Linked DNA regions of Homo sapiens: regions 2 and 3 are each linked to region 1. The links come from fine-mapping of genetic effects on gene expression. A gene starts in region 1. Each other region holds a variant in brackets. All regions are shown on one strand. Distances are between the middles of the regions. Region 1 holds the start of MPZL2 (myelin protein zero like 2). Region 2 overlaps SCN2B (sodium voltage-gated channel beta subunit 2). Region 3 overlaps KMT2A (lysine methyltransferase 2A).

Evidence for each region. PIP is the estimated chance that this variant, and not a neighbour inherited with it, causes the effect.
Region 2: its variant is fine-mapped to the expression of MPZL2 in whole blood (INTERVAL, PIP above 0.99).
Region 3: its variant is fine-mapped to the expression of MPZL2 in whole blood (Lepik 2017, PIP 0.95).

The regions. Positions count from the first base shown.
Region 1 is chr11:118,259,090-118,267,361 of GRCh38, forward strand. It overlaps MPZL2 (myelin protein zero like 2), which reads right to left and starts at 5,208. Exons shown (of 6, transcript NM_005797.4): 1 at 5,007-5,208; 2 at 3,842-4,008; 3 at 3,349-3,559; 4 at 965-1,112. The coding sequence starts at 5,064. RefSeq lists an enhancer at 4,960-5,009.
Region 2 is chr11:118,157,198-118,165,469 of GRCh38, forward strand. It overlaps SCN2B (sodium voltage-gated channel beta subunit 2), which reads right to left. Exons shown (of 4, transcript NM_004588.5): 4 at 5,609-8,272. Among named protein-coding and RNA genes, the nearest start is that of SCN4B, 8.5 kb to the left of the region's middle. The variant G/A (reference allele first, on the strand shown) is at 4,522.
Region 3 is chr11:118,466,111-118,474,110 of GRCh38, forward strand. KMT2A (lysine methyltransferase 2A) reads left to right here. Exons shown (of 36, transcript NM_001197104.2): 2 at 2,665-2,734; 3 at 5,552-8,000. Among named protein-coding and RNA genes, the nearest start is that of KMT2A, 34 kb to the left of the region's middle. The variant T/C (reference allele first, on the strand shown) is at 4,328.

The DNA of each region.
Region 1 (8,272 bases):
AATAGTCCAGCTGTTTAAAGACAGTCTGGCAATTCCTCCAAAAACTAAACAGAGTTACCATAAGACCCAACAATTCCACTTTTAGGAGAATTAAAAACATATGATCTACACAAAAGCTTGTAAATGAATGTTTATAGCAGCATTAGTCACAACAGCCAACAAGCAGAAAAAACCTAAATGCCCATCAATTGAATGGACAAACAATATGTGGTATATTCATACAATGGAATATTATGCAGTCATAAAAAGGAAAGAAATACTAATACATCAACAAGGATGAGCCTTGAAAGCATTATGCTAAGTGAAAGAAGCTGGGCATAAAAGACCACATATTGTATGATTCTATTTAAATGAAATGTCCAGAATAAGCAAATCCATAGAGACAGAAAGTAGATGAGTAGTTGTCGGGGGCTGGTAGGAGGGGATAATAGGGAGTGATAGCTAGGGATATGGGGTTTCTTTACGGGAGGGAGCTTAAAAACGTTCTGCAATTAGTGATGATTGCTGCACAACTTTGTGAAAATGAAAAAGGTAAATTTTATGGTGGGTAAATTTTATCTCAATTTTAAAATACATTTAATGAACACCTGCTATCAGCACAACAGACTTTCCTAAGCCCTGACTCATAGTGGCCCTGCTGACTGCCTAGCCCAGTGGTTTTTACAAATGTATGCTTCACTTTAAACATAAGGGATTTTTTAGAAAAGCTTTACATAGCACATTTTTGTAAAATCAACCCCCCCACATAGTAAAGAAATCCCATAAGGAAATATTTTGTAAAATTAAGAAAGCTTTTGTAAAGTTACTAGTTCATACCTGATTTATCTGTCCTGCAAATGTGAATTCTTTTATATAGGATTTACTTAAAGGGAAAAACATCTGTTCAGCAACTATTTAGCCCACTGCAAAATACCAAGAGTCGCCATAAGAGTGTTAGAACTTTCCCAGAACTGCCCAGCCTTACGATTTTATCTCCACCACTTTATGAGCTCTTTCGGCCCATCGCTTTTTCCGGTAATGCTGGAAGAGGACCACTACAATTACTATTATGATCATCAGTGCACAGGCAGAGCCAATGGCCAGAGCCAGGAAGTGGATCTCAGAGAAGCGTACTGTAAGGAGAAAAAGATTAAATTAGGATTCTAAAAAGAAGAGGACTACAATGAAATCTAATGACATAATAGGGATGCATTTAATCAATAGATGGAATCTTCCTTTATCCTACCTTTATGCATAAAATAATATATTACCTTGTGAATCCTACTAGCAATAGGAAAACCATACACATACTTTAATGGTTCTCAAAGTGTGGTCTTCGAAGTAACAGCAACAATATCACTTGAGAACATGGAAATCTTAGGCCCCACCCCAGACCTACTGAATTAGAAACACTAGAGGTGCGGCTGAGCAATCTGTGTCTTAACAGGTCCTCCAGGTGATTCTGATGCAGCTTTGAAAACCACTGGGTGGGTTGAACTACTTATGGGGTAAGGTTTTTGCTAACCTCATCAAACGTAGTGCCCAACCCATTTCTCCCTGACTTCTCACCACTTTCACTCAGTCAGTTATTTATTCAGATTTATTAAGGGCCTACTACATTCCTGGCACTGTGATAGAAATGCTGAGCCAAAAAAGACATCACCTTCAAGGAGCTCATGCCACTGAGAGGATAGGAAAGTAAATCAGAAGCTACAGTCTAGTGGATAAATGATGGAAAAGGGAAACCAGAGGGAAGGTCCCCTAAGCCACACTAGAGTCTGTGAACCCTGGTTTTCTTGTCCTTTAGCTTTATTTCTGATTATACTTCCATAAGCCCTCAGAGCCAGAAAGGACATTAGAGAATGTCTAGCCCAGGATTCCCAGCCTTGACTCCATGAAGGAGGATGGGGAAGAGGATGGAAGGTAGTCTGCAAGCCCACAGAATCCAAGTCTCATTTTGTATGTCTCCACTGTTTTATGGGAAGCAGGGCCATGGCTTTTATTTGATTCTCAAAGAATAATTATCCACATATATTTAAGAACCACTGATTTTTTGTGTGTTTAACCTCTTCATTGTGCAGATGAAGAAACTGAGGTCCAAAACCATTACATTATTTCTTTCAATACTCAAATGACTTCTGCAAGGTCACACAGCCCTCTATTGGTGGGGCATTGAGAAATGGTTTTAAACTGTACTATGAATGAAAGGAAATCGTACCACTGCACAGGCTTATATGTTTGGAGTAGTGTTGGTTAAGAGCACACACCAGAGAGCACTAGGTTGAAATACTTAGCTGTGTGATTTGAAGTAATTAACTTCTTTGAGCCTCAGTTTCCTCATGTATAAACAGAGATAATGATATTCATTTCTTGAGTTCTTAATAAAAAATAAAATAATTCATGTAAGTTGTTCCTTGCTGTGCCTGTACAAAATAAACACTCAATGTATGGTAGCTGTTAAGTACAATTCAGAGGTTGGGACATATTCACATTTATTATCTCATTTTATCCTCACTGTGATCCTTACTGTGTTATTCTCACTTTACAGATGAGGAAAATAAGACTTATTGATAGCTGGTAAATGGTAGCAATGACTCAAACCCAGATCTACAATTCATAAGTTTCGTGTACTTTGCTCTTTGTTGCTTGGCATGGTTTTCCAGATTGTCCTTTATAGGGATGCAGACAATACAATGCACCAATTTAGAGCACAGTTTTAGATTCAAAGTTGATTGGGTTTGAGTCCTAAGTTACTCCATTTATCAGCTACGTGACTCAGGGCAAATGACTTAACCTCTGTGAGCCTCGTTTCCTCATTGGCAAGATGGGAGGCATTAAATGCACAATAAACTGATGAGATATGTAAAGATTAAATAAAATGTGTCATGTAAAGCCCCTGACATTTGGGAAGTACTCAGTAAGTGTTAGCTCCCATCATTAGTACCTGCCTCCTAGAGTGGTGTGGGGATTCAATGAGATAGTGTATGTCATGCACTTTTGACGGTGCCTAGCATTAGAGTAGGTACTCAATAAGTATCTCGAATAAATGAGTGAGTGAACAGACCTGTTGTAAGCCTTTCATCAAAGAATTGCTCCCTCTCCCTTTCACAATCTCAATGCCATTTTTGTAACGGATTCTCTGAGTTCCTTTGCTTTACTTTCTGTTTCTTTCCACAGCCAAACAAAGCCTTTCTCTTTTTACCCCAGAACTCTTCGGTCTCCCTCTGAGGCTCCCAGTTCTGAAGGGCTAGTCCCTCTCTCTATCCATCACAAAAGATTGTCCCTCTCTCTCAGCCTTAACAAAGATTGCCCCTTTCTTTTCTACAAGCTCTCATCCTTTCCAAAACCACTGTTCCCTGCATAACCTACCAGTGTGCACGACGCTGAGCCGGATCTCCCCTATCACCCCATCAACATCAGGTGGGTTCTTCACCTGGCAGGTGTATGTCCCATTGTCGTCGAACTGCAGTTTCCAGAGAAGGATGGAGGCATCGTACCGCTCAGGATTCCCATCCCAAGACACCCGGTCCTTAAACCGCCCACTCATGGGTTGGAAGGGATCTATGTGGTAGTAGAATACCTAGAGAGGGGAAATGGCAAAAGGTCTTCTTACTCAGCACCCAGGCAAGGAGGCCAAGATGGTGGGAGCGGAAGTGAAACACCAGCAAACCCAACTGTCCTGTCTGCAGCTCTGTCACTTGCTTTCCCCTTCAACGGCCTCTCAGTCTCTGTCCCAAGAATTGTTTCCGAGCTTAACCTTGTGCTTGCTGCTAAGAAAAATACTGGAAGGGAAAGGAGAAATGGACTGGCTTATTATTTCCCTAAACAAGAGTACCCTGGAAAATGATGATAATCTACTTACAAACTGCTCAGGTCCCCCGTCTAGAGGACGAAAATTCCAGGTCACTGTTAGAGCATCACCCACAGGGGCAAAGCTGGAGAAAGTGCATTTTAACCGAGCATCTGTCCCATTAACAGCCTCCAGCACCCGGGAGGTATAAATTTCCACAGCTGCTATAGGCCAAAGAGCTGCAATGAAAAAGAAGAAAAAGAAGGGTTAACAGGGGATGTAGTATTGTGAGAACTTCTGCTGACACTTCCAAAATAAATATCTGAGTAGGACTTAAAGTAAAGTGAAACTGAGATGCCCCATCTCCCAAACTTACTTCACCCAGAATCTACATACTCCTACCTGTATGCAGCCTGGACCCTCCCATTCCATGTGACAACTAAACTACCACACAGCAAGCCTTCGCAGTGCTTTTACTTTCTCCACAGCATTAAAGCCTCGCCTCGTGGTACTGACTTCAAAACTGTTATAACAAACTACAAACATCCGCAAATAGAATTGAAAGCATAAACAAAAAATTAAAATGAATCATAACATTGATTAGACATTACATTATGTATTAAGGTTAAGCATTATGTGTTGTATGTAAAGTGGTCTCCTAGCAGGTAAGTTTTCCAGATGGGTCCTTAGGTGGATTTCATACTGTTACTAGTCTATTGCAGAAACTGAATTAATCAACTCCAGACAGCTTATGTTTGCCTGCACCCCTAGAACCTTTGTACCACGTGGCATTTTTTTAAACTTGATATTTACATTTAGAATGTGTGTGTTGGGGCACTTTCAAAATCACAGTAGGTCTCTCTCTAACAATCTCCACTTTCCTGGTGTTGCTGAGAGTCACAGACAAGACCCACACACAGAAATCCAAATGCCAAGTCCTGCCAGCAGTGGGAGGTTGAGAACAGCCACACACAAAAAAATGGCATGTAACCTGAGATTAGAAAGCCCTCTCTGTGCCTGAATCACTGGCAGCTGAACACACCTAAACCTGTTTGTCCGAGAGCAGTTCTCCAAAAACAGTCCACCAACTTTGGTTTCAGTAAAACCCAAAGTAAAACAAACTGTATCTGTGGCTCAGGCTCCCAAACAAAAGTCTTGCAACTTCTAAGACAATTAGCTAACTTTATAGAGTGAGCAGTGAAGGAGGAAACTCTGAGAGAAGCCCGCCGGCTCTTACCTGTGAGCTGTATGCCAAGGAGAAGAAGCACCGCACGAGTAGAGCTCTTGCCATACATGAGGGAAACCCAGCCTTGGCCCCAGAGACCGGACGGGGCAGACCGAGGGCTCCAACACCCTGCCAAGGCCACTCCGGGAGGAGCAAGCACCGCGTTTTCCCAGAGAGAGGAGTTTGAGTTGAGTTCCTCACCTGTGCCTGTGACTCAGCCCGCTCTGCCTGTGCACTTTTCTGAAATGAAAGGTGGGGCCTCAGCTCCCAATGCCCTCCTTCCTTTCCTCTCTCCCGCCCTCTACACGAACGAGCATGAGCACGTCTGCACAAAGGTCCCAAACTCCCGCAGTCCTCTCTTTACTTTCAGTTAATCTGACTGGGCTCTGGCCTCTAGATGGCCTCGGAAACAGCCAGAGGAGGTGGTGCCAGTCTGAAATGTCCCAGACTGTTATGGGTTTGGCCCCCACACGCCCTTTTAAAACAGGCTTTAGGCTTGCCTGGGAAGTGAATGTTGAAACTGTCCTGCAGTGATTCCACTTCTCAAAGCACCACCCCAGGGCCACATTCACTTGGGACTGGATTCGATACAATTTCAAAACGGGAGTCGGAATTCCTTAGGACCCTCTGTGGACAAAAAGCTGATACCCCTGTTACCACAAGGATTCCTGCACTTCTTCTAGTTTGTAGCTTTCCAGGAGACCTGGCAGAAACAACAAATCAAATCTCCATGCTTAACAATCCTTTACCTTTGAAGACTTTAAAAACAAATGAGGACACCATCCCTGCTCATTCACCCTGCCATCCGAGTGCAATCTACAAAGTGCTCTCCTGCTGATTGTTTCATCTCCATTAACGCCCTTGTGAAGCATTCCCATTCTACCAGTGAGGACGCTAAGAACCCGAGGAAGGTAAATGATTTGCCCAAGGTTGCACAGCTACCATGTGGCAAAACCAGAACTTTTCTTAAAAATCTAGCGTTCTTTCCACCAAATAACAGCTAATATGAACAATCAGACATGGGGCTCTCAAGGAAAAGGTTTTCATGATAACTTTGTTGTGCCTCGGATTTCATCTGTCATTTTTTGAATAGCTAAATGACTGAGAAGTCTAAAGAGCTGAGGAATCTAAACGAGAAAAGATGCCTCCTTGTCTGGAAAGAGGGTGGGTCATCTTTACAGATTAATGAAGCGGCACAGAAACATCGGTAGGAGGGGGATGAAGATTACACATGCAGTTAAGAAGTAGGCTGGGCTGGGAATCTAACCCTGAAAAAAGACAGATTGCGTTTATCCCTGGATTAGCAGTCTAGAAACTCTTCAGTCACTCATAAAATCTTCTAGCTGAATCCAGAGCAGAAAGGGTGGCAGGAACAAGAGAAGGCGGCAGGCTGAGTAGAAAAAAATAAAACATCATAAAGAGGGAAGAAAAGAGAAAATTCTACCAAAAGAGAGGAGAATGCAGAAGTGCAGAAAACAGAAAGCAACAGGAGAAAGATGACATGGGCATGGAGCAAAAACAGGTAGACAACCACAAAAATCCATTGTGTTGGAACTCAGAAAGCAGAGGTGGCCCCAAATGCAGACCAGCTGTGTGCTAGTGAAAATCTGTTGCATGGTGAGAGTTTCTGAAAACTGTGTGGCGTCTTTGTCAGATTCTAGTTCAGAAAGGGACCTAAAATCAGTCTGCTGGGGGAACCTTTCAGATGTTGGTGAGGAAGGATAAGATACAGCCTTTCTGGTATGTAGGTCAGAAGAGTTCAGCTCCAGGACCCTGAAAGAAAAAGAGTTAAGGAAACTTGATCTTGGTTGGCTTCCAACTTTGCAGGGAAATACAGCTACAGAGGAAGGAGAGGTAGAGCCAGGATTTTGAAGTCTACAGCAAATTGCAAAAACTGGTGAGAGGTAGAGTTACCAAAGAGCTCAGGGATGCAGTGAAAAGCAACAGGAGAAGAATCAGGGCAGGAAGAACTGAACAAACTGCCTGTTGTCAGGAGCAGAAATCCCTCCCCCAGGTAGCCAAACACCCATGAGCTGGTTGCCAGCCTTGCTCTGAGGGGCAGGAGTTATCCAGATCCCACTTCTCAGCTGAGTTCAAGTTCCTGGCTTAGTGCCTGGCAACGCCCAGTTCCTTCCAGTTAGCAGGAGTGGCTCCACAGTCAACCACTTCACCTCACTGGGCAAGGAAGAGGCCAAGGGTAGAAGGTTAAGAAGAGAAAATGCTAAATAAAAAGGATGTTTGCCCCTCACAGTTTTCTGGACACCAGTCAGCAGGACTTAGACCAAAACTGCAGGCATCTACATAAGGCCTAAGTTATGTTTGTGCCCAGGCAAATGGAAGGAAAGGAAGAGGAGTTCTGGAAATTGAAAAGAAGAAAAGTAAAGTTTTCAGAGACACCATTTTCTTTCTAAACTTTTCCAGAGAAAGATCCTGATTGTCATTTAAAATTGTGACATACCAATAGTTTTTGAAAGAATCTCATCTGTCCCATCCATCTACACATTTCCCAAAAAATGATTTCTAGTGAGTATCTAGACCTTAGCCAGCAGGAGACTCACTGGGGGCTCAGGAGACAGAAGGGACAGTGGGCCTGTATCAATATTTGTAAAAGTTGTCTTTCTCAACCTCCTAGGCAAAAATCTTTTTTTCACCTAAGGTGAAATTAGCATTCTGTGAAGCAAGGAAAACAAATAATTTAGCTCTTAGGGTCATCAAATAAAGCATTCGTTTACTCAAAAGTGTCTGTTCATATGTTTTTACTAGAAAAAATTCAGACATACATAGAATATTTCTACCTGGGAGGAAATAATATAAGATAGGAAGGTGAAGTAAACAAATAATTATCACTTTCTTGATTTTTAAATTCAATCCTTAAAGGATGAATAGGAATTCTGGAAAGAGGATAAACAAAGTCCTTCCCATTGGAACAAATGGGTGGGAATGTGGTACCCACAGGGACTAGCATGCAATTCCTCAAACCTGGAGCACAGGGAGGAGTGGCAGGCCAGGTGAGAGGCTAGGTCCACCTGGGCAGTGCCCTCATCCACCATCCTAAGGAGTGTGGACTTGATCCTAACAAATATACCCATTGGGGATGGCTAATATGTGACCCAAGAAGAGCATCCCTAGAAGTAGAATTACTTTGGTATTTCCCAGAACCATTAAAAACAAGAAGGAAAGTCTTGGGACACCAACGACCACTTACTCTCCTGGCTTTCGTTTGGGCTCCTGGCTTATGAGCCAGAATGAAAGTGTAGACCTAACATCTGTTTTCCAAA
Region 2 (8,272 bases), 100 kb before region 1:
TCCTCTCTGCTTTCTAGGGGCTCTGGGCAGAGGCAGGTAGGCAGCCACCTCCTCAATCCCTCCCTTCCTCTGTTTCTGTTTTCTGCCAGGTTCTGTCCAAACATCCTTTCAGGCTGAGATGGGTAGGGAGCCCCAGACAGATGAGCTCATTGGAAGGAGGAGGGCAGAGGGAGGAGGGAGCCGAAATATCCTGACCAGAGGGATGCTCACCGGCCAGTCCCGAGCTGGAGAGGGTGTGTGCCCACTTCCGGGAGAAGGTATGTGCTGCCCTTGCAGTAGCTCCGAGATGGGGTGAGTCCTGGACATCTCTTTACTATAGGCCACATTGGGGTGGGGTTTGAAGCCCCCGGACAGGGTGTCAACCACCCTACCCAGCACCCCAGAGCTATATTTCTCTCTCTGCTTCATGGATCACCATGGCCCCCTGCCTGCCCATCAAGGGAGGATGGTGGCTCAGGAGGGCTGGGAACTGGAGGCTTTGGGAAGGTTTGTCATTCATTGCAGCCTGCCGCTCACAGGACTGCCTTGTCAGCTGAATAGTCAGATGCCCTCCTGGCCTGGCTTTGAAATGGGCACCTGAGACAGACTGGCCAAGCCAGAAGCACAGCACAGCGCGGAGTACCCGGCAGGACTCCCCAGATGCTCTGGTTTCATGCATTAGGAGCATTTTAATGTGGGAGCAGTGGGTCTTGCAAAGTGAGGGGAGAGGGAGGATGTGGACCTGGAGAGGAAATGCGGCAGAGAAGGTGGGGGGCAGAGGAGAGGAAGAGAGGAGGCCTGGGAGCAGAGGAGAGTCTTCCTGAGTCGAGGGCAACTTAAAGTTGGAATGTGGCTCAGGCTGAAGGGGACGGGTGGGGACAGGGAGACAATTGTTTAGTAGGTGAAGCAGAGGATACACAGGCTTTTGGCAGGAAGGGAGTGGAGCGAGAAGCCAGGGGAGGAGAAGGTGGCCAGCAGATGCTGCAGCTGTTTGCACAGAGCTGTGGGGCCAAGGGCCAGGCCATGTAGGGGTGGGCAGGAGGGGCCCGCCGGGAAAGCGTGGCCTCTGCTCACACTTTTGCCCTTATGCTGTTGTCCATGGTCATTTTAGGGTTGGTTCCAAGCCACCCTTCCCTCACCCACAAGTGTTCGGTCTGCGAGAGCCCAGTTCACTGTCCTTTCTCCTGGTGTCATGTAATGGCTTTGGTTCATCAGGCCTTGAGTGTGAATTTGGCTCTGCTGTTTCCTAGCTGTGCCACCTTGTTTGTACACATACTTATAATACTGCAGAACTTTGTTTCCTCATGTGTAAAAATGAGAAAAGAATGCATTTGGACGGGGCCTTGCCCTAAGGATGAAGTAAGCTGATATACATCAAATACCTAGATCAGCACCAGGCACAGAGTAGGTACTCAGTAAACAGTGGCTCTTCTTATTGATCTAGCCAAGAGTCCCATACCTTCCTCCTTCAATGCCCTTCAAGTTCAAGATGGCCATGAAATCCACCCCTTAGCCCTTCCAGCAGGCTCAGCTCCAGTGGACAGCCTGCACGGGTATGAGCAAGCTATGGGGGGAGTTGAGGGAGATGTTGACAGATTTGGCAAAGCTGGGAGCACTCAGGGATAGGGAGGCAGGGAGGACTTGTATCTTCCATCTACAGTCTTGACTGGAAAGACAGGAGTTTCTGACCTGGCTGGTGGGCCTAGGAAGGCAAGCTAGACTTGGCCTCATCTTTGGAAAGAAGCTCCCCAAGGTCACCTGTCTTCAAATTTCCCACCCTCTCCCAGCGTATTTCTCACTGTACATAGAGGTTCACCCACACCCCCCACGTCCCCACCACTGATAGATCAGATACAGAAGAACCAGGTAAAGCGGTACAGGGGTATAGAGGGGACCTGGGGAAGACCACAACTGAGTAAGAAAGCAGAGGGCCAGACACGTGTGCATGTTTGCCGGTGTATGTGTTATACTTATCTTCAGGCAAGCAAGACTTTTATCCCACTTCTATGATTTGAGTCCTAAAAAGAAGACTGCAGAGGGCCATTATCAGTAGACTTAAAGGCTATCTAAAAGTATGCCCTGATATAGGAACTTTCTCAACAACACCCCTAAGTTATGCTTAAATACCTTCTGGGATGGGGATTTCATTACCTCAAAAACTCGACCCTCTGCACAGCTCTGATTTACACTGGATGAATATCTGTCTCTCCCTGCCAGTCCTAATGTCTTGCCTTGGGACAGAATGGGACAAGTCTAATCCCTGTCCCTGAGGCTACAGCCTGGGCCACTCTATCGGTCAACAGCCACGCTATCGGTCAACTTCCCCTCCTGGCTGAACACACCCTACTCTTCTGCCCATTTGCCCACAGGAAGAACTCTGAATCTGTTGGGGCTAACCGTTCCTAGTCCCTTTGCCACGTGTTTACTGGGAATGTGTCCCACTTGAGAAGCAGAGGCAACTGTGGTTGGGATAGAGGTGACTTTGCCAGGGCCATAGGGGAAAGCCCCTCCCATGGGATCCAAAGTAGCCAAGCTGAATGCCTGGCACCCACTTGCCCTTCCTTCCCCAGCACCTCCTAGACCTGAAGGTCATTATTGCCAGAGAAAAGACAAAGTTGCCATACCAGGCCACCGACTCCCCCATCCCAACTCATCTATTCCCATCACCTCTTCCCCAGGGCCTTGCTCCCTTTTCTCCTAGGCTAGGCTCCACTGACCGCCCCCCACGACATCCATGTGCCGTGTCAGGATGCCAGGATGTGGTTCTCAGCGGGGCTTCCTTCCCCAGGCCCTCCGGAGCCCTCATCCACTGGGCTGCTGGAGCCTGTCCTAAGGAGTAGCTGGCACTCTGGACATCAGCTTGGTAGCAGGCAGCCAGGAGTGACTAAAACATGGTGGGTTTTGGGGTGTGATTCTGTAGGAAGAGTCGGGGGCAGCAGTGCTACCAGGACTTTCTGAGAAGAGTTCCTGCAGAGCCCTTCCCGTGCGGACCTTCTGAGCCCCCAAAGAACCAATGAAGAAGGCCAGGAGACCTAGTAGGGACCTGCCAGTTGTTCTGTGTCCAGTTCTGTGTCCAGTTGCCCAGCCTGCACCCATCAGACACTATCCCAGGCTGCTGTCACCTGAAGATGATTTGATACTACGTTCCACCCTTGCAAGATGGGAGGGAGATAAGTAGCCTAAGAGGGGCCCATATGCAAACTGACATGAGTCACATCATGCTGATGGGGGGTGGGAACAGGACTCTGGGAACTAGTGCCAAAGGACATGAGCCTATTTGCCCAGGGACATCAGCTCAGCCTAGGGAAGGCCTTGACTGGGGGAAGAGAGACTTGGGTTCTATCCCAGGCTCTGTCATTAGCCAACTGTATGACTTTGGGCAAATCACGTTCCCTCTCTGAACCTCAGCTTTGAAAACTGGGCCCTTAAGGAAGCATGAGTGCCTCTTCTGCACCAACTCAGGCCAAGCTGGGGAGGGAAGGGGAGGGGTCTGGGCTGGTGCATGCTGCTGTGTCAAGCACTAGACCCAGCACCTGTGGACTGCAGGAAGAATAGCGGACTTGGAGCCTGCCAGACTCTGTCTGTACTTGACTCATCATGTCGCCTTAAGCATGTCACTTCTCTGTTCTGGTCTTCAGTTTCCCCTTTAGAACAACGAGGGGCCTTGACAGGTATTCCTGGGGGCCCTCCCATCTCTGCTGTTGTAAAGGTCTACTCCGTCACCCCTAATCCTTTTGGCCCAGATTCCTATTCCCTAGCAACCATCCATGGGCAGGCCGATGGCTATCCCACTGGGATACCCCATGCATGGGGTGTCCAGTGGGAACTGGGAAGCTCTTGTACAGGTACCTCCACCTCAATTGAGGGGCACAGGAGACCAATAATTTTGAGCACCAGGGTGGCAACTATCCCTTCCCCCACCAAGGCAGCTTGTTCTGCAATCGAAATTCATCCACCCCGCCCCAGGCAGGCTGGGCCATAGAACCCAAATTTAGGGGAGATGCCTGAACCAAATCCAGCCTTCCCAGAAACCAGGCCCAGTTCGTGACTACCAAGACCCTCTTCCCCAGGGCCTTGCTCCCTTTTCTTTGACCGTAGGAAGAACTCTCAATCTGTTGGGGCAAACTGTTCCTTAATCCCTTTGCCACCTGGTCCCCAAAACCAAGTGTTTGGGGGAGAAGCCCAGTGAGGAAGATGCTGCTGGCCTGGCTGAATATCAGGGGCCTGTGTCCATCCTGGAAGGAACCAGCCAGAATCCCTGGTGCCTTCTGCTGCTCAGTCCGTGTCCCTCGCCCAAATGTTCCTATCTGTTAAGTAGAGAAGCATCCCCCCGCAATACCCCATTCTTGGCAGGACTCAGGCTCCAGGGATAGACATCCTTTTAAACCAAGGGAACTTTGGCTCTGTTGAATACCAGCCACCTTTGTTTAACACTGCCACCTCCAGTCTGACTTCTCTCCCAAGTGGCAGCTGTCATCCTTTAAGCCATTAGAACCACAAATATCAAGGTCCTCTTGGCGTATTCCTAACTACTAACCACTG[G/A]TGAGGGTCTCTGGGTCTCCAGGGAGCAGACAGGAATGAGACAGAAACCAAGAGAAAAGTAGGAACCAACTACCTAAGTATGTCCTTGCCATTCAGCAAGTTGAGGTTTTTCTTGCTGAAAAGGGTTAGCCAGCCCGTCTCTCTTTGCAGTGGTCCTTAGTTAGGAGGAAGACACAGATGGGGGTGGTGGCAGGGTGAGGTTCTGAGAGAGCAGGAGAGGCTGGAGCAGTTGAGAAAGTCAGCAGACTGAAACCACCAGAGCGTGGTGGCCGGAGCATGCAGCCAGAAGTGGGGCTCGAACCCCAGAGTAGGAAGAGGAAGGTAAGCCTGGTAAGCCTCCTAGGCAAGAGAGAGAGAGACAGACAGACAGAGAGAGAGAGAGAGAGAGAGAGAGAGCGGTGCAAGGGAGAGAGGGAGAAATGCAAAGAGACGGAAGAATGAAGAGCAAGGGAGAAAAAAAGGCCTGTCTGGGACAGTGGAGCCCCTAGCCAGGAGGTTGCCCTTGGTCCTAAACTTCTTAGGGCTGCTTTGGCACATATATATAGGATCCAGCAGTATGTAGATGGGACATGAGCCACCTGAACCTTCCCACAGCCACCCTTCTCCATGAACTGCATGAGGGCAGACTCTGACCAGCTGTCATCTATTCTTTCTGAGTCCAGAGGAGGCAAAAGAAATGTCTAATCCAACACCTTTGGGGAACAGAGCAGGAAGGATGGCCTGTCTGCCCATGCAAAGGACAGGCAACATCCGCATGACAGTCAGCCTTGGGAGCTTCCGGGGTTGTCTTCATCCCCAAAATAATCGAGAGCCCTCCAAGAAGTAGGTGTTCAGCCACTCTGTTCCAGGGTGAGCGGAGTCCCCAGGGGGTTGGGGAAGGCAAAGGGATGAAACATCTGTGGGGGCACAAGTGTGGGGTAGACAACCTTCCCCTTGTGAGGCAGGGGCATTGAGGCCCTCAGATGCTGGAGATCTGGCAGCGCCAATGGGATTACCAGGAAAGGAGCACCTAGGGTTCCAGTTAAGATCCTGGTGAAGCATCAGCCTACCCTGCCCTGAACCCCTGAATAAAGCCACACTCGAGGGATTTTCAGGGGAGATAGTTTATTGTTGCCAGTAGACCCAAACAATAAGACAAATTGCAAAAGAAACTCAGTCTGCTCCCAAAAGCAGATACATCCCAGCAGTCGAGTCACAGAGGGCCATCTCAGTTTCTCTCCCCTTCCAACCACCCCTTCCAACCTCTCTATAGCACACACAACCAAGAAAGTGCATATGTAGTTGGGTTTTCCCCTCCAAGTGCACAAAGCGCAAGAACATTCCAAAATTTGCCTTTGGTGAATCAACTCAAAACACTGAGAAGTTATTACACCTCCCCACACACACACAGTGTAACTTTTGGGGTGGGTGTGGTGAGATGTTTGATATTTGTATATATAATATATCTATACCTAGAGAGAGAGACTATGTACAGTGCATCAGCAAGCTTCAATAAAGGAAGACGCCAGCAAGAGGCACAGCAAGAGACACAGGCTGTCCATCTTTAAGACATAAGTAGGAAGGAAGATTTCTTGCTTCATCACCCGTTAACTGCACCAAGCCATTCCTATGGCCTGGAACTATCCTTTTGGACCTGCCCAGTATTTTCAATTGTCTGTCTGCTTAACCTGACCTTGCAAATATTTACCAGCCCAACCTCCCCAAGGAGACTCGCAGAGAGAAACATGGATCCGATCAGCTTTTCCTTTTTATAAACTGGAAATAACTGTGAAGAGTCCATAGCTAGGGGGCAGATAGCTATTTCCAAAGCCAGTTCCAAGGCACCTCAAAGCAGTTCAGTCCTGAATAATTGTGCTTTGTTCTTATAAGCTAAATCCCATGGGTTAGCCAGCCCGTCTCTCTTTGCAGTGGCCCTTAATTAGGAGGAAGAGACAGATGGGGGGTGGGGGCAGAGGGAGGTTCTGAGAGAGCAGGAGAGGCTGGGGCAGTTGAGAAAGTCAGCCGACTAAAACCAGCAGAGCGTGGTGGTGGGAACATGCAACCAGAAGTGGGGCTCGAACCCCACGGTAGGAAGAGGAAGAACTTGTCAGCATAAGTTAGGAAACAGGGTAGGGAAATGGCTGCTGTGGAAACATCTCTCTGGTTTTCCACCTCTACTTACAGAAGCCCCATTTTGCTCCCAACTTCACCATCCTGGGGGAGGCAGCTCTATGAGTCCTCTGGAGGAGATTCTAAGAGGCTCCAGAAGAAAATGCATATGAGGGCTGAGCACCTGGGACAGAGATGGTTCCTGACCCAGCCCCATCTGCTGGGGCCCTGAGGCCCGTGAAGAGACATTGCTTTTCCTGGGCCCCAGTTGATCAGGGCAGAGGAAAAAAAGACTCCAGGAATCTTGGGCTTCTTGATGGAGAGTTAGAACTTCTTAGAATACACTAGGAAAGCCCGCAAATAATTCCCCTAAATGTTATGGATCCTGGAAAAAGATAAGTTCCCAACATCAGCACAGCTCCTCACTCATCCTGGGAGAGAAGGACACTTAAAGGGTGACCAAAAAAATGAAATCTGCAAGCTGCAGAAATGTATACAACCACTCTTGGTCTCAGCTGGCATGAGGTGCCCGCCACCCACCTCTCTGCCCCCAGCTGGCTGGCTCAAGGATGGGCAGCGTCCATCTGCTGCAGGCATCCTGGCGGCTTAGCCCACCCGCATTGGCAGTGTGTTGATTGGCAGTTAGGTACTGAGCTGATGAGTTTAGCATTTCCAGATGGGCTTGACTCGCTCACCTCACCCAGGTGTTACCAGGCTGGTTGCCCATCCCCCACTCTGCACCCACTCTGCCTGGCCTCTGCACCCTTGACCCTGTTGTATTGCCCCTCTTCCCTGCTGTTTCTCCCTTCCCAGGGCACAGATTCTAGAATCTCTTCATCTTCCCCAACTGTAGCCTTGGAAGCAGTGTCTTGCAGAGGTGGAATTAGATGCACCAAAAAGTTAATCTTGGTCCCTACAGTGCCAACCTGGCAGTCCCCAGTGCTTATGGCTTTGTGTATATCCCCAGTGCCCGGCACAGTGCCTGGCACATAATAGATGCTCAATAAATGGTTGCTGAATTGAAGCAAATTAAGCTGAATCTCCCAGATGATATTGCTGTCTCCCCAAATTGGCAATCTGATGGGCAGAGGCAGGGATTGGTCCCTGAGACTGTCACGGTCCTGTCTCCACCCCCTTTCCTAGACTTATTCCCTACCCTGGGCACCTGACTCCTTGAGTAGGGGTGGGGCAGAGCTCCTGGAAAGGCTGGGAAGTGCTGGGGCAGGGAATGGGGCATTTGCCAGCAGCTGTGCCCTTCACACTTGCTCCCTCCCTCCCTGCTTCCCTCCACTCCTCCTCAGTCCTGGCCAGAGGGGCTGGGCTCCTGGGAGGGGGCAGGGCTAGAGAAGCCCACCCCTCCAACTCGCCCCATCATAGACCAGGACACAGAGGCCCCTCCCACTGGGAAAATGATGGCTCTGTTGCTTCAAACTGGAGACTGAGGAGCCAGAGAAGAGGGCAGGACCCTCAGTTTCTGTCAGTTGGAACCTCAGTTTCCCCATTTTAAGTGAGTGACTTGGCTAGTTGATCTCTGAGGATCTTCCAAGGTCATGGTCTCAGAGTCAGTGTTTCTGCCTCTTGCTCCTTCTCTCAGGCCTAATCAATTTCCATTGAATGTGAGTGTAATGGCAGTGATGGTTGGCTCCGCACAATTGCCTTTTTT
Region 3 (8,000 bases), 210 kb after region 1:
CACTTGAGCCCAGAAGTTTGAGACCAGCCTGGGCAACATAGTGAGACCCCGTCTCTGTAAATAATTTTAAAATTAGCTGAGTGCTGGTACATGCCTGTAGTCCCAGCTGCCCAGGAGGCTAAGGCAGGAGCATTGCTAGAGCCCAGGAGTTTGAGGCTGCAGTGAGCCGTGATCACACCACTGCAGTACAGCCTGAGTGACAGAGTGAGCACTGGCAAATTTTAAAATTTTCTGTAAAGACTCACTATGTTGCCCAGGCTAGCCTTGAACTCCTGGCCTCAAGCAGTCCTCCCATATTGGCCTCTCAAGGCGCTGGGATTACAGGTATGAGCTACTGTGCTGGCCAAGAGAGAATTTTTCTTATTCACAAATAATGTTCACAGTAAGAATTTACTTAAAATTTTTTTAAAGTAAAAAGAACTGGCTGGGCACAGTGGCTCACGCCTGTAAATCCCAGCACTTTGGGAAGCCAAGGTGGGTGGATCACTTGAGGCCAGGAGTTCAAGACCAGCCTGGCCAACATTGCAAAAGCCCATCTCTACTAAAAATACAAAATTAGCCAGGTGTGGTGGCACACGCCTGTAATTCCAGCTACTTGGGAGGGTGAGGTATGAGAATCTCTTGAACCTGGGAGGCTGAGGTGGCGCCATTGTACTCCAGCCTGGGCGACAGAGCAAGACTCTGCCTCAAAAAAAACAAAACAAAACAAAACAAAAACAACAAAAAACCAACAAAAAAAGAACTTACGTGTAAGAATTTAAATTAGTGATGAAAGAAGAAACTGTAAAAAGTACTCCAGTAAGCCAGGCATAGTGGTGCATGTATGTAGTCCGAGCTATGCAGGAGGCTGAGGCAGGAGTATCACTTGAGACCAGGAATTAAAGACCAGCCTGAGCAAAATATGTAATTAAAAAAAAAATTACTGTAGTCTGTGTTCCTTAAATTTAGGTTTCATACATTCTTAGAATTATAATACTTTTTCATGGCTGGGCACAGTGGTGCATGCCTGTAATCCCAGCACTTTGGGAGGCCGAGGTGGGCAGATCACTTGAGGTCAGGAGTTTGAGACCAACCTGCCCAACATGGTAAAACCCTGTCTCTACTAAAAATACAAAAATGAGCTGAGCATGGTGACAAGGGCCTCTAGTCTTAGCTATTCAGGAGGCTGAGGCAAGAGAATCGCTTGAACCCAGGAGGCGGAGGTTGCAGTGAGCTGAGATCGCGCCACTGCACTCCAGCCTGGGTGACAGAGCAAGACTCCGTCTCAAAAAAAAAAAAAAAATTATAATACTTTTTCAGATGTCTTTGAAGAGGAGAATTTCAGCCTTTTCTTAAATAGTCCAATACTTTAATCTTAGCAATCTCAGAGCAAAAGCCTTTTTAGATGCCAGTAAGACTTTTCTCTCAGTTGCCTAGTATGCAAAGGCTGGGCCTTAAATGTTTTGCTCCTCTAAAGCATTTAAATTTAAGAGATGAACCTGCTAATTTGTCCTAAAAGTTATATATGTCTTTTAATATAGTCATGGCTGAAAAATGGCTAAGACAGTTAGCACCTGACTCTAGTTTTAAATTAACTGAGAAAATAATCCTTCAGAAAATCATTGATGTTGTCCACATACATGTGTTCTTACCTCTCGAGAGGAAAATGTTAATGCTTTTGTCATTGGAACTCAGTTTGGGACTTACCACTATAAATTGGAGGTTCCAGAATGTCTGTTCTTCATTCCTTATTTTGTTCTTGTTTTATGTGGATTTTGTTTCTGGAATCTGAAATTCTATCATTCTGTGTCTGTCTCTGGAAAGAACTCAATCTCTGAATCATTGAATTTCTATTAATCAGTTTGTTTAAATAGACCATCTTTCTTGAGAACTTGTGCAAAATAGGTTAAACAAATCCTTTTTTTTTTTATAGAGCAGGTTAAAATTAGAGGTAAGCAGAAGCTTTTGCTTTTTGTCCTTTCCAACTATAACTGAAAATAGGATGCTTCCCTAAGTTTTAGTAAAGGATTTCATCCTATATGCAGTCAATTCATGATCCCTTTCACAAACGCTGCTGCCCACCATTAAGTCTCTTATCACAGGCATTTTTAAAATTATACCATAAAATGCATGTTGAGACTCTCTGGATCTCAAATGTACAGAAATCACATCTAAATGTCAATTCCTGAGTTAAGGAACTGACAATTATGGCACTTTCAGTCTCTATTAATATTTAGAAGGCAAGAGATTATTATATTGTTTATATTACTCCTTATGTGTCTGTAGACTTAAATACTTTTTGAAAAGCATTTGTTTGTTGTATTGGGGCTGTATGTTTCTGCCATTATACTTATTTGCTTACCTGATTTAAAGTTGTCCTTTAATTGTTTTGGGCTGTATCTATAGTTTGAAATTAGGACTATCCTCTGTGTACTATGCACCAAAGATGACATTTCAATGCATTGTTCAGTTACTACACAGCTCCTATTTGTCTGTAATAAAGCTGTATGGCTGGGTCCATTTATTTCAATATTAGTTATTTTATAGTATCCATTGGAATGATGATAATTAATATATAAAGGCAACTTTTCCAAATTCATTTGTGTCTCCTCTGGGCATTTCTTTGGGATGTGTTTGTATGCACGTTTTTGCTTCTGATTTTAAAATAATTTTCCTTTGTTGTAGGATGAGCAATTCTTAGGTTTTGGCTCAGATGAAGAAGTCAGAGTGCGAAGTCCCACAAGGTCTCCTTCAGGTACGGCCAATTAAGTGCATGGTGCCTTTTAAGTTTTGTTTGTTAGGAGATTGTGGCTTCCTCTTGCCTTCTTTACATGTAAAGGATGCTCTACCATACTTGGGTTAGGAAATGGCTGATGAGCTAGACTTCTTTTTATTTATTTATTTATTTATTATTGTTATACTTTAAGTTTTAGGGTACATGTGCACAATGTGCAAGTTAGTTACATATGTATACATGTGCCATGCTGGTGCGCTGCACCCACTAACTCGTCATCTAGCATTAGGTATATCTCCCAATGCTATCCCTCCCCCCTCCCCCCAGCTAGACTTCTTTATGGGACTCTTATCTATCAGGCCACATTGGGTTTATTCTTTCTCTCTGGGAACTACTTGGGGCATGGGAAGTAGGTTTCCACAGAATTACTGGGAAATCTGGTAGGCAAAGTGAAGGTAACCTAGTAAGAGTATCCTCAGATTTACACATTTTGTGTTATGTGGTAGTGTATATGTCTTTGGGAATAATTTGGCCATTATTTTTTTTGGATGAAATTTGGTCCACTATTGTCAAAGAACCAAAAACAAAATATTGGCATTATGTGAAACATTTTTACCTGATTCTTGAAAGGCTGTATTAAAATAAAAAAATGGAAAATTAGCAATATTTGTCATTATTCTCACCAACAAAATATCTAGAATATCTTGAAATTCTAGACTTACAAGCAGTTTCCTAAGAGAAGACCCTCAATGGAAATAACATTTAATGGCTTGCCTAATTCAGTTCTGTATAGGAGAAAGCTATGTATCTTTTGATGAAAATGCATTCCCCATCTGTGCTGCCATTCTGACTTCATATATGGTTTTCTTTGATTTTATGTGGATAGACACTCCAGCTAAATATGATATTGTTAGCTGTTTCTGCTTTTTGACATTGACTTAGCTTGTGATGTGTGCTAGCATTAGGGTCTCACTTAAGAGTCATCATATATTATCATCTAATTCAAACATCCAAGTTGACAGTTTTTCTTTTCTTAAAGAGGAGTGGTATTGTCATTCTAGTTGGGGGCAGTTGGCCAGTAGTGTCCCAGTATCTGTGCTATTCAGACAGTAGCAGTGTTCTCTTTAACATGTGATGAAGTCTTAAAACTTCATATAGGAAAGGAATTAGAGAGATCATCTGGGATTTTTGTTTGTTTGTTTATAGATGAAAAAATGAGGTCCATGAAATACATGAGTAATGATTTATAACCAGTTTGAGAGTTCTTTGGATATGTTGTGGATCAGGGAAGTTAGCAGCAGTGCTGGGACTCTTCTCTGTTCTGCTGCTTCTACTTATCTACCAAAAGAGTTTTTTAAAAAGTAGGATAGAAGAGGTTTTCAGAATTGATAAAGCCCTCTGATTGGCCAGGTTCAAGTCTACCACAATGGTAAGGAATCTTTTGATGTATTTCCGGGCAGGAGTTGTTTTGTTTGTTTGTTGTTTTTGTTTTTGTTTTTGAGACGGAGTCTCACTCTGTCACCCAGGCTCTGGGCAGGAGTTTTATTTTGTTAATTCACAACTTTTTCATGGTAGTTTCCTCTTAAGTTTTTTTTCATGACTACCAGTCTACCT[T/C]GAATGTTGTCTTGTTTTCTAAGAAACCATCTCGATATGCTTCATTATTTGAGAAATGAGACATGGTTTCTCTGCTGTCTCCTAGTTTATTACCTTTGTTGTAATTAGGATATGTTGAGAAAGGAGCTGTGAATCCTTAATCTATTAAAGGAAGTCTCATAAATTAATTGATGAGGAATGCATTTATATTTAGAAAGCTCAACAATAAAACCTTTGTTGACTTCTGTTCTGTTAGCAAGCAGTTCCATTGTAAAAATGTTCATCTCTTTTGGTGCCTATTAAGGGAAGTTTTAGTCTCAGAAGAATGTTATCAAAAGGGAAAAGAAGATTTGATAAAATAGCCTAGTCTTACTACTTTTTAAAATACAGGTTTATACAAGGTGTTTTAGAAACAGTCTTGTTTTCTTGAATGGCTTGAAAAGCAGCAAACTGAGCTTATTTATAAATTGGCAAATTCCTTTTATTTAGAATAGAACTTTGATTTAATAAGTTGTCATTTTGCTGTTGACATCAGTTAAGGTTAAATCTTTTTGCAACTTGAGACTAGCTCAAGAACCTCTAAGCAGGGGAGTAGATTTAGTGGACACATTATGTCACTTCACTGATTAGTTCACATGCCACTGAGTTCAGTGGTCTTATTCTGATGTGTCATAAATGAACATTTTTCTATTCAGTAAAACTTTCTTAGTCTACTTTGGCAAAACAGATTGAAATATGGGACTCTGAGCTGCCCAAGGAGTTGGTATGTTGATGATTGAAGAGCAGCGTATTCAAATTTGTTCAAAGCCAGAATTCTGAATTGAAAAGATGGGATGACTAACTAGAAGCATATTCTTAAATGTTAATCTTGGTGGCTAGGATATGGCGAGGAAGTTCAGATGTTTTTTCTTTACAATTCCTTTGAATTCAGAAAAAACCTTCTTGCTCATCTAAAATTGTAAGAAAATCAGTTTTGTGGATTAATTGTTCAACTGAAAACTTTTTATTATCTTTTTGTATCAAAAAAGTAATTAAATGTTCTTTCAGGTGGAATGTTATTTGCTGACTTCTTTGAGGCAAATTTTGGGTGAAAAGAAACTAAGCACAATTAAGATGTTTGATTGACTCATTAGACTCAAGTTGAACTCAGTACAAAATGGCCAGTGCTAAGTTATATTCAGCTTAGTTAAAACCTAAACTACACAGCTAAATATATGCTCTTCATTGTTTAATTTCTATACACAGTTAAAACTAGTCCTCGAAAACCTCGTGGGAGACCTAGAAGTGGCTCTGACCGAAATTCAGCTATCCTCTCAGATCCATCTGTGTTTTCCCCTCTAAATAAATCAGAGACCAAATCTGGAGATAAGATCAAGAAGAAAGATTCTAAAAGTATAGAAAAGAAGAGAGGAAGACCTCCCACCTTCCCTGGAGTAAAAATCAAAATAACACATGGAAAGGACATTTCAGAGTTACCAAAGGGAAACAAAGAAGATAGCCTGAAAAAAATTAAAAGGACACCTTCTGCTACGTTTCAGCAAGCCACAAAGATTAAAAAATTAAGAGCAGGTAAACTCTCTCCTCTCAAGTCTAAGTTTAAGACAGGGAAGCTTCAAATAGGAAGGAAGGGGGTACAAATTGTACGACGGAGAGGAAGGCCTCCATCAACAGAAAGGATAAAGACCCCTTCGGGTCTCCTCATTAATTCTGAACTGGAAAAGCCCCAGAAAGTCCGGAAAGACAAGGAAGGAACACCTCCACTTACAAAAGAAGATAAGACAGTTGTCAGACAAAGCCCTCGAAGGATTAAGCCAGTTAGGATTATTCCTTCTTCAAAAAGGACAGATGCAACCATTGCTAAGCAACTCTTACAGAGGGCAAAAAAGGGGGCTCAAAAGAAAATTGAAAAAGAAGCAGCTCAGCTGCAGGGAAGAAAGGTGAAGACACAGGTCAAAAATATTCGACAGTTCATCATGCCTGTTGTCAGTGCTATCTCCTCGCGGATCATTAAGACCCCTCGGCGGTTTATAGAGGATGAGGATTATGACCCTCCAATTAAAATTGCCCGATTAGAGTCTACACCGAATAGTAGATTCAGTGCCCCGTCCTGTGGATCTTCTGAAAAATCAAGTGCAGCTTCTCAGCACTCCTCTCAAATGTCTTCAGACTCCTCTCGATCTAGTAGCCCCAGTGTTGATACCTCCACAGACTCTCAGGCTTCTGAGGAGATTCAGGTACTTCCTGAGGAGCGGAGCGATACCCCTGAAGTTCATCCTCCACTGCCCATTTCCCAGTCCCCAGAAAATGAGAGTAATGATAGGAGAAGCAGAAGGTATTCAGTGTCGGAGAGAAGTTTTGGATCTAGAACGACGAAAAAATTATCAACTCTACAAAGTGCCCCCCAGCAGCAGACCTCCTCGTCTCCACCTCCACCTCTGCTGACTCCACCGCCACCACTGCAGCCAGCCTCCAGTATCTCTGACCACACACCTTGGCTTATGCCTCCAACAATCCCCTTAGCATCACCATTTTTGCCTGCTTCCACTGCTCCTATGCAAGGGAAGCGAAAATCTATTTTGCGAGAACCGACATTTAGGTGGACTTCTTTAAAGCATTCTAGGTCAGAGCCACAATACTTTTCCTCAGCAAAGTATGCCAAAGAAGGTCTTATTCGCAAACCAATATTTGATAATTTCCGACCCCCTCCACTAACTCCCGAGGACGTTGGCTTTGCATCTGGTTTTTCTGCATCTGGTACCGCTGCTTCAGCCCGATTGTTTTCGCCACTCCATTCTGGAACAAGGTTTGATATGCACAAAAGGAGCCCTCTTCTGAGAGCTCCAAGATTTACTCCAAGTGAGGCTCACTCTAGAATATTTGAGTCTGTAACCTTGCCTAGTAATCGAACTTCTGCTGGAACATCTTCTTCAGGAGTATCCAATAGAAAAAGGAAAAGAAAAGTGTTTAGTCCTATTCGATCTGAACCAAGATCTCCTTCTCACTCCATGAGGACAAGAAGTGGAAGGCTTAGTAGTTCTGAGCTCTCACCTCTCACCCCCCCGTCTTCTGTCTCTTCCTCGTTAAGCATTTCTGTTAGTCCTCTTGCCACTAGTGCCTTAAACCCAACTTTTACTTTTCCTTCTCATTCCCTGACTCAGTCTGGGGAATCTGCAGAGAAAAATCAGAGACCAAGGAAGCAGACTAGTGCTCCGGCAGAGCCATTTTCATCAAGTAGTCCTACTCCTCTCTTCCCTTGGTTTACCCCAGGCTCTCAGACTGAAAGAGGGAGAAATAAAGACAAGGCCCCCGAGGAGCTGTCCAAAGATCGAGATGCTGACAAGAGCGTGGAGAAGGACAAGAGTAGAGAGAGAGACCGGGAGAGAGAAAAGGAGAATAAGCGGGAGTCAAGGAAAGAGAAAAGGAAAAAGGGATCAGAAATTCAGAGTAGTTCTGCTTTGTATCCTGTGGGTAGGGTTTCCAAAGAGAAGGTTGTTGGTGAAGATGTTGCCACTTCATCTTCTGCCAAAAAAGCAACAGGGCGGAAGAAGTCTTCATCACATGATTCTGGGACTGATATTACTTCTGTGACTCTTGGGGATACAACAGCTGTCAAAACCAAAATACTTATAAAGAAAGGGAGAGGAAATCTGGAAAAAACCAACTTGGACCTCGGCCCAACTGCCCCATCCCTGGA